Regions from separate parts of the Homo sapiens genome. Here region 2 is linked to region 1. Evidence: fine-mapped expression QTL. A gene starts in region 1. The other region holds a variant in brackets. All regions are shown on one strand. Distances are between the middles of the regions. Region 1 holds the start of NT5DC1 (5'-nucleotidase domain containing 1). Region 2 overlaps FRK (fyn related Src family tyrosine kinase).

What was found.
Region 2: its variant is fine-mapped to the expression of NT5DC1 in whole blood (TOPMed, PIP 0.91).

Annotation. Positions count from the first base shown.
Region 1 is chr6:116,099,331-116,102,252 of GRCh38, reverse strand. NT5DC1 (5'-nucleotidase domain containing 1) reads right to left here and starts at 1,400. Exons shown (of 12, transcript NM_152729.3): 1 at 1,230-1,400. The coding sequence starts at 1,322. It also overlaps a transcript of FRK not described here. RefSeq lists enhancers at 697-1,217, 1,218-1,740 and a silencer at 1,325-1,584.
Region 2 is chr6:116,054,269-116,057,190 of GRCh38, reverse strand. All of the region lies in intron 1 of FRK (fyn related Src family tyrosine kinase), which reads left to right. Among named protein-coding and RNA genes, the nearest start is that of FRK, 5.2 kb to the left of the region's middle. The variant T/G (reference allele first, on the strand shown) is at 1,436.

The DNA.
Region 1 (2,922 bases):
GTGTACCTGAACTGGTGGGTGCAGGAACTGGCGGGTGCCCATAATGGGGCACAACCCTGGCTGATGTCTGCACCAGTGATCTAGAGTTCTACCCATAAACTGTGAGGTTTCCAAATAGTTTGGGTGGTAACCATAAAAGCAAACACTTGTCTTTGCCAAGGTACTATTCTAAGCATTATACATCTCTTACTCATTTAATCCTTGCAACAATCTTGTGAGGTAAATCCAATTATTAGCTCCATTTTACAGATGGGGAAACTGAGAAGCAGCACAGGTTAAGTAACTTCCTCGAAGTCACAGAGCTAGTAACAGTGGAGCTGGTGTCCTAAGCTAGGCAGTCTGGCTGAGGAGTCCTCGCTTTCACCACTGTACTCATAACCAGCTCTTTTTCTGTCTGGATGCTTAGATCTTGGACTAAAAAAATCTGGTAACTTTTCAAAATTAGTTTCCTTGGGAATTGGGAAACCAAAGGAATAGTGGAGGGAGGGCAATTAATTTGAGTGTACAGGTCTGGAAGCATGCATACTCCATGTCCCCCTCCCTCAGGGCACAGTGAGGACCCAAACTTCGCAGACTGTTGGTAGGACTGGAATGTATTCAAAGTGCACGGAGCACGTAGTCGATGCGCAATAAATATGTATTTTCTTCTCTTGATAGAAGGTAAAACTAGGGCTAAGATCTTAATGACTTTTCAACTAGTGTTCCTTTCAATACACTACACTATATACTACGCATCTCTCCCAGATTGCAGTTTAAACACTGATGGGTGGTTGATCGTGCAAACAGAAAAATGCAGCCAAAAAAAATGCAAGTACCAAATCAAGTGGCTGTGTCCACAATCAGCTGGTGTCCAGAAAGACATGCAGAGAAAGTTCCACGACGTGAGATCTTCAAGGACAGCCCTAGTCCCCCTGACCCCGCCCCTCCTCGGCCCTAGAAATCACCGATTCCCCAGCCCGGTCTTGCGCAGTTTGCCCCTCCTTCGTTCTTCCCTATCCCTCTCAACATTAGCTAATGGCTGAGGTAAATGTGCCGGTCCCCACGGCACCGGCGCGGAGCGGAGGCTGCACACTTCCGCCCCTTCTCGCCGCTGGAGGCCGCGCTCTGCGGCAAGACTCGGCCGCCGCAGGCCCCGGGCAGCGTCCGCCGTTGCCCAAACCTGGAGGAAACTCAAGCCCCAGCCGCCATGGAGGTTGCGCGCAGTGCGCCCCGGAGCCCGCGCCACTCACCGGGGCGCTCTCGGGCAGGTTGTAGCGACACAGAGTGTGGTCCAGGTCGAATCCGACCACGTCGCAGGCGGCCAGGGAGAAGTGCTGAGCCATGGCTGCGCGGGGAGCACCAGGGAGCGCCTCGGCCGCGAAGGGTGCAAGGAGCTGGCTGGCGGGACGCTGCGGGACAGGACCGGGCCGGACGCGGCGGGGCGGGGCTGCGGCTGCCAGGGCACACGGCGCGGCAGCCTCTCCCGCCTCCCGCGCCCTCGAGCACCGCCCCTCGATACGCTTAGCCCCCGCCCCTCGCGCGGCGGGCGTCCTGCGCCGCCCGGAGTCAGGTAGTCAGCTCGCGTCCTCCTGGTACCCCAATGCCGGCGACTCCTGATCTGTTCCGCAAGCCTAGGAGCCCAGAAGGCAGTAGGGGTCCAGGAGCGGTGCCGCTGCTGCACAGCTGAGACCTGTAGGCACGTAGCCTTTCCCGAGGGCTACCACAAAATTAACCGGGACACTCCATCGCCTCAGGGCGCCTCGGAAACCAGGAGATCATGAGGTTAGACCTGACCTTTTACCCCTGTGTGAGGAATAGTAAGATCATAGAAAAAATTCATCCGCTAATATCCCTCTGACCCAGTTAGCCTACAATTTGGAAGGTCTTTTCACCCACGTGATCTTTGATAGTGGTTTAAACCAAAAACTTTATATTCCTTGGTTTCCTAAGTGGTTAAGTGGAAGACAGACCTTTCACTATTTCATACCCTGGAGTGCGTTAGAAAATAAATGTATCAGACATCGTGAAGAACCATTTTGCAAGATGATACTTGTTATGGAAACCAATATTGGTTATTACTTGATAATCCTATTTTGTTATTGTAATGAATTTTTTATGAAAGGGCATCAGAAACTTCATAGAAATATATAGAGCATACTACAAAAAACTTTTGCAAACCGGGTTTAAGGTTTATAGAGCACAAAATGTTTTGAGTGACATTTGCTTAATTCTCTCAAGAACTGTATAACTACTACCATTTTAGATGCAGAGAAAGTTAATCCATTACATACAATGTATGCCTTAGGGCATTTAATTCTCTTCCTGATTTCCGGATGTGAAGGACTAGCACTTTGAGATCTTTATTACATAGTACCTCATTTTAAAAAGAAAATACAAATCTATTATGTTTACACTGCTTCAGTTCTCAATTTAAAGGAACAATGTGTCTAATGGGACAAATCAATAGTCGTGACATAATGAAAATATAATTGATTGAGAACTGCATTTAACCCTTTCAAATACTAATCCTTCTGAGGCTAATAGACCAATCAGAGGATTAATTTAGTGCAATAGATAGTACAATTGAGTAGGAGGACACTTATACCTAGTAGACCCATTTGAATAAAATTGATAACTTGTTCCATTATAACACTTAAAAGCCCCAAACAAATCTCTCTGGAATAGGAAAAGTAAAGAATCTTCAAGAAGATTAAGCTGTTCACTGATGAGTCCAACAATCATGTTTTCAATGTCTGTGAACCAAAAGAGAAAAGGCTGGATTGTTGGAGAGGCTGGAAAAAGCTTGTTGGCCCTGGAGCATTGACCTTGGCATTCTCCTCTGCACCTTGCAATAGAATGCTACCAAAGTCAAACTTCCAGGTGCATGCCACATTGAAGGGCACATGTTTCCTTGGGGAATATCTTGTTTCATGTGGGAGTAGG
Region 2 (2,922 bases), 45 kb after region 1:
ATGAGTAGGCAATGGGAAACCAATGAAAGCTGTCATCTAATTCCTAATTAGACCAGTTTAATGCAACGTATGTTAGTATTTGTGTTTTTATGTCTTTACTTTTGATGTGCATCTGTAAGAAGAAACTGCAAATACTTCTGGAGTTATTGGTGCCAGGGAAAATTAGTTTAAGGCTTTAGTTTGCAGTTTGTTTGTTTTCTTTTATACTTGGAAGTAGAGATGTTGAAAAACAAACTATTGTTTAAAAAGCCCAATTTACTAATTCTTATCCCACTTAGAAATGCTTTTCACCTTTACTGAATATCTTCCACTAAGTGATATAATAAACCAATTCTTGAAGATTTATTTTGTCTTTATGAAGAATCATTAGATTTATCTTATCTTCGACTTGAATTTATTCCTAGCTCATTTTAGAGATGAGTCTTTTTCTTCAACATCTTCAATGTGAAATCCCTCGAAAACCTTGCCCTTAGGGTCTTATTAATCAGAACTTTCTTTAATATTTTATTTATGGTGTTTTTAAAGATATAAAGTTCACATAAAAATAATGATGTGGAAATAACATATAAATATTAGAACCAAAAGTAATGGCTTTAAATTTCATTGCTTTAATTGTAAAAAATTCAAGTATTGCAAAATATTGATAAAAAGCAATATGATCAGCAATAATATTAGACGTAGCATCATTTATCTGCAAAGAGTTTAAAAAGTTTTTTTGCTTAGGGAGGATCACCTGTGTCCAGGAGTTCAAGAACAGGCTGAGCAACATAGTGAGACCCAGTCTCTACAAAAAAATTAAAAAATTTGCTAGGCATGGTGGCACAAACCTGTAGTCCCAGCTACTCGAGAGAGTGAGGCTGGGGCAGGAAGACTGCTTAAACCTGGGAGGTTGAGGCTGCAGCAAGCTATGGTTGTGCCACTGCACTCCAGGCTGGGTGACAGAGCCAGACCCTATCTCGAATCCCCACCAACCAAAAAAAAAAAAAAAAACCAAATGAACAATTTTTTGCTTAATTGTTAAAGTGTACCTTAGGTGTTGTCTAACATACTTTTGTGTTAAATTGAACTAGGGTCAGAGATGAGATCAGTTTAATCTCCCAGAAAGGGGATTGGTAGGAGGGGAATGGGGTGGACATAATCACATAAGCCAGCCACTGATGATTTCTGCTTCGCCAACTTGACCACGCAAGCCAAGGGCAGCAGTTGAGATAGCTGATTTGACTCCCCTTTGCATGTTAAGTTTAAGTTATGATAACAACAATGAAATGTGCTGCTGAACTTCTGACTCCATACACTTCTCAAAGACATAAATGAAGATTCTATTAAGAAAATTAGATCACTACAATCATCTCTAAAGTTTATTGTTTATTAAGCTCCACATTTTTCTAGGTCATATTCTTGTGTATCTTCTTACTTGTGAATCAGTAATTTTGTC[T/G]TAAGTCCATTCTATAGGCCTGGTATGGTGCTAAGTGAATGACTCAGCAAAGGCAGAGGAATTAGTATTTGCTTTGTTATATATATATAATTTGGCTTTATGTTAAGAAATATTTCCACACTTATGTGTGAAACAATAAAGGCCATAAAGTTTATTTCTGTCTCCTAAATTTGAGCATGGCATACCTTTGTGGGTAGGAGGGCTAGAGGAGCCACCCATACTGACCTACGATGGTGTCTTTGTATCTCTTGTTAGCACTTTAGCAGGGGAAGAAGCAAAGTACTGGATTTTGTAGAAAGTTTTTCTTCTCCTCTTATTACTGTGAAAGGTAGATAATTTCCAATTCCTCATCTATTCATCATTTCAGTGGCTTCCTTGAAAAAGAAAGCAAGAATAAATATTTGTAACTTGTAGTTTTGTTGGTAGTTTATGATTATGGTATAAAAATGTTAGAATGTTCTGAAGTATAAAAGTAATGGGATTTTTCTCCATGTATTTAGGCCATATTTTCCTGCTTGTGCTGCTCTTTAGTGTGTCAGACTAGAGTTCTTTGAAGATTTTATCTAACCTATGATGATTGCCATTGTCGAGCTTGAAAGCAGCATGGTGAAACAAAGTGGTATATTCTTGGAAAGATTCTTATATCACCTATATCACCGTTTTAAAATAGAGTGAGGCTTTGCTATTTTGTCATTTGAATGCTGTGGAATTTAATAATTATTGAATACAAATTGTACATAGTGTGCCTAATCATTTTCAACTTAAATGTCAGCAGATTTTTTTCTTAGCTGGGATATGAGACCAGCTTTTGCATCTTAATTATAGGTATAGAAACAATGTGGTTTAAAAATTAACATTACCCTTAATACATTTTAAAAGTCATCAGAATATTCATAATCCACTCTGACATAATAGATGTTATCTACTTTGAGAAGTTTGAATTATTAAAAGTCACCAGTGTGCGATCAGTTCCACAATTGTTCTTTATCTAGATCATTTATTTTGTTCCCTTTGTGTAAGTTGTCAGGGAAGACTAAATGCCCATGTGTCAAAATGAAAATAATACCTAGTAATAAATGCCTGAAAATAATGCCTGGCATTTCTGGGTTCTCTCCTCTAAGACAAAGTATACTTACTATAATTTTAGAAATGAAATAAAAAGGTATTTATATATATAAATAACACTATATTTATAAAATATAGTATTATACTATATTATACTATATAATATATAATATATAGTATAATATTATAATAGTATAATATACTATTATATATTATATATATTATATTATATATAATATAGTATAAATAATATATAATATACTATATAAATAATACTATATTTATAAAAAATACACTATAAATATACATATGGTTGTTTATCAAGTGTTTTGGATTAATCAAGATAAAAATTTTAGCACAAATCATTTAAGTCAACCAAAAGCATATTTAAATGCCATGAGATTAATTAGCGTTACTGTCCC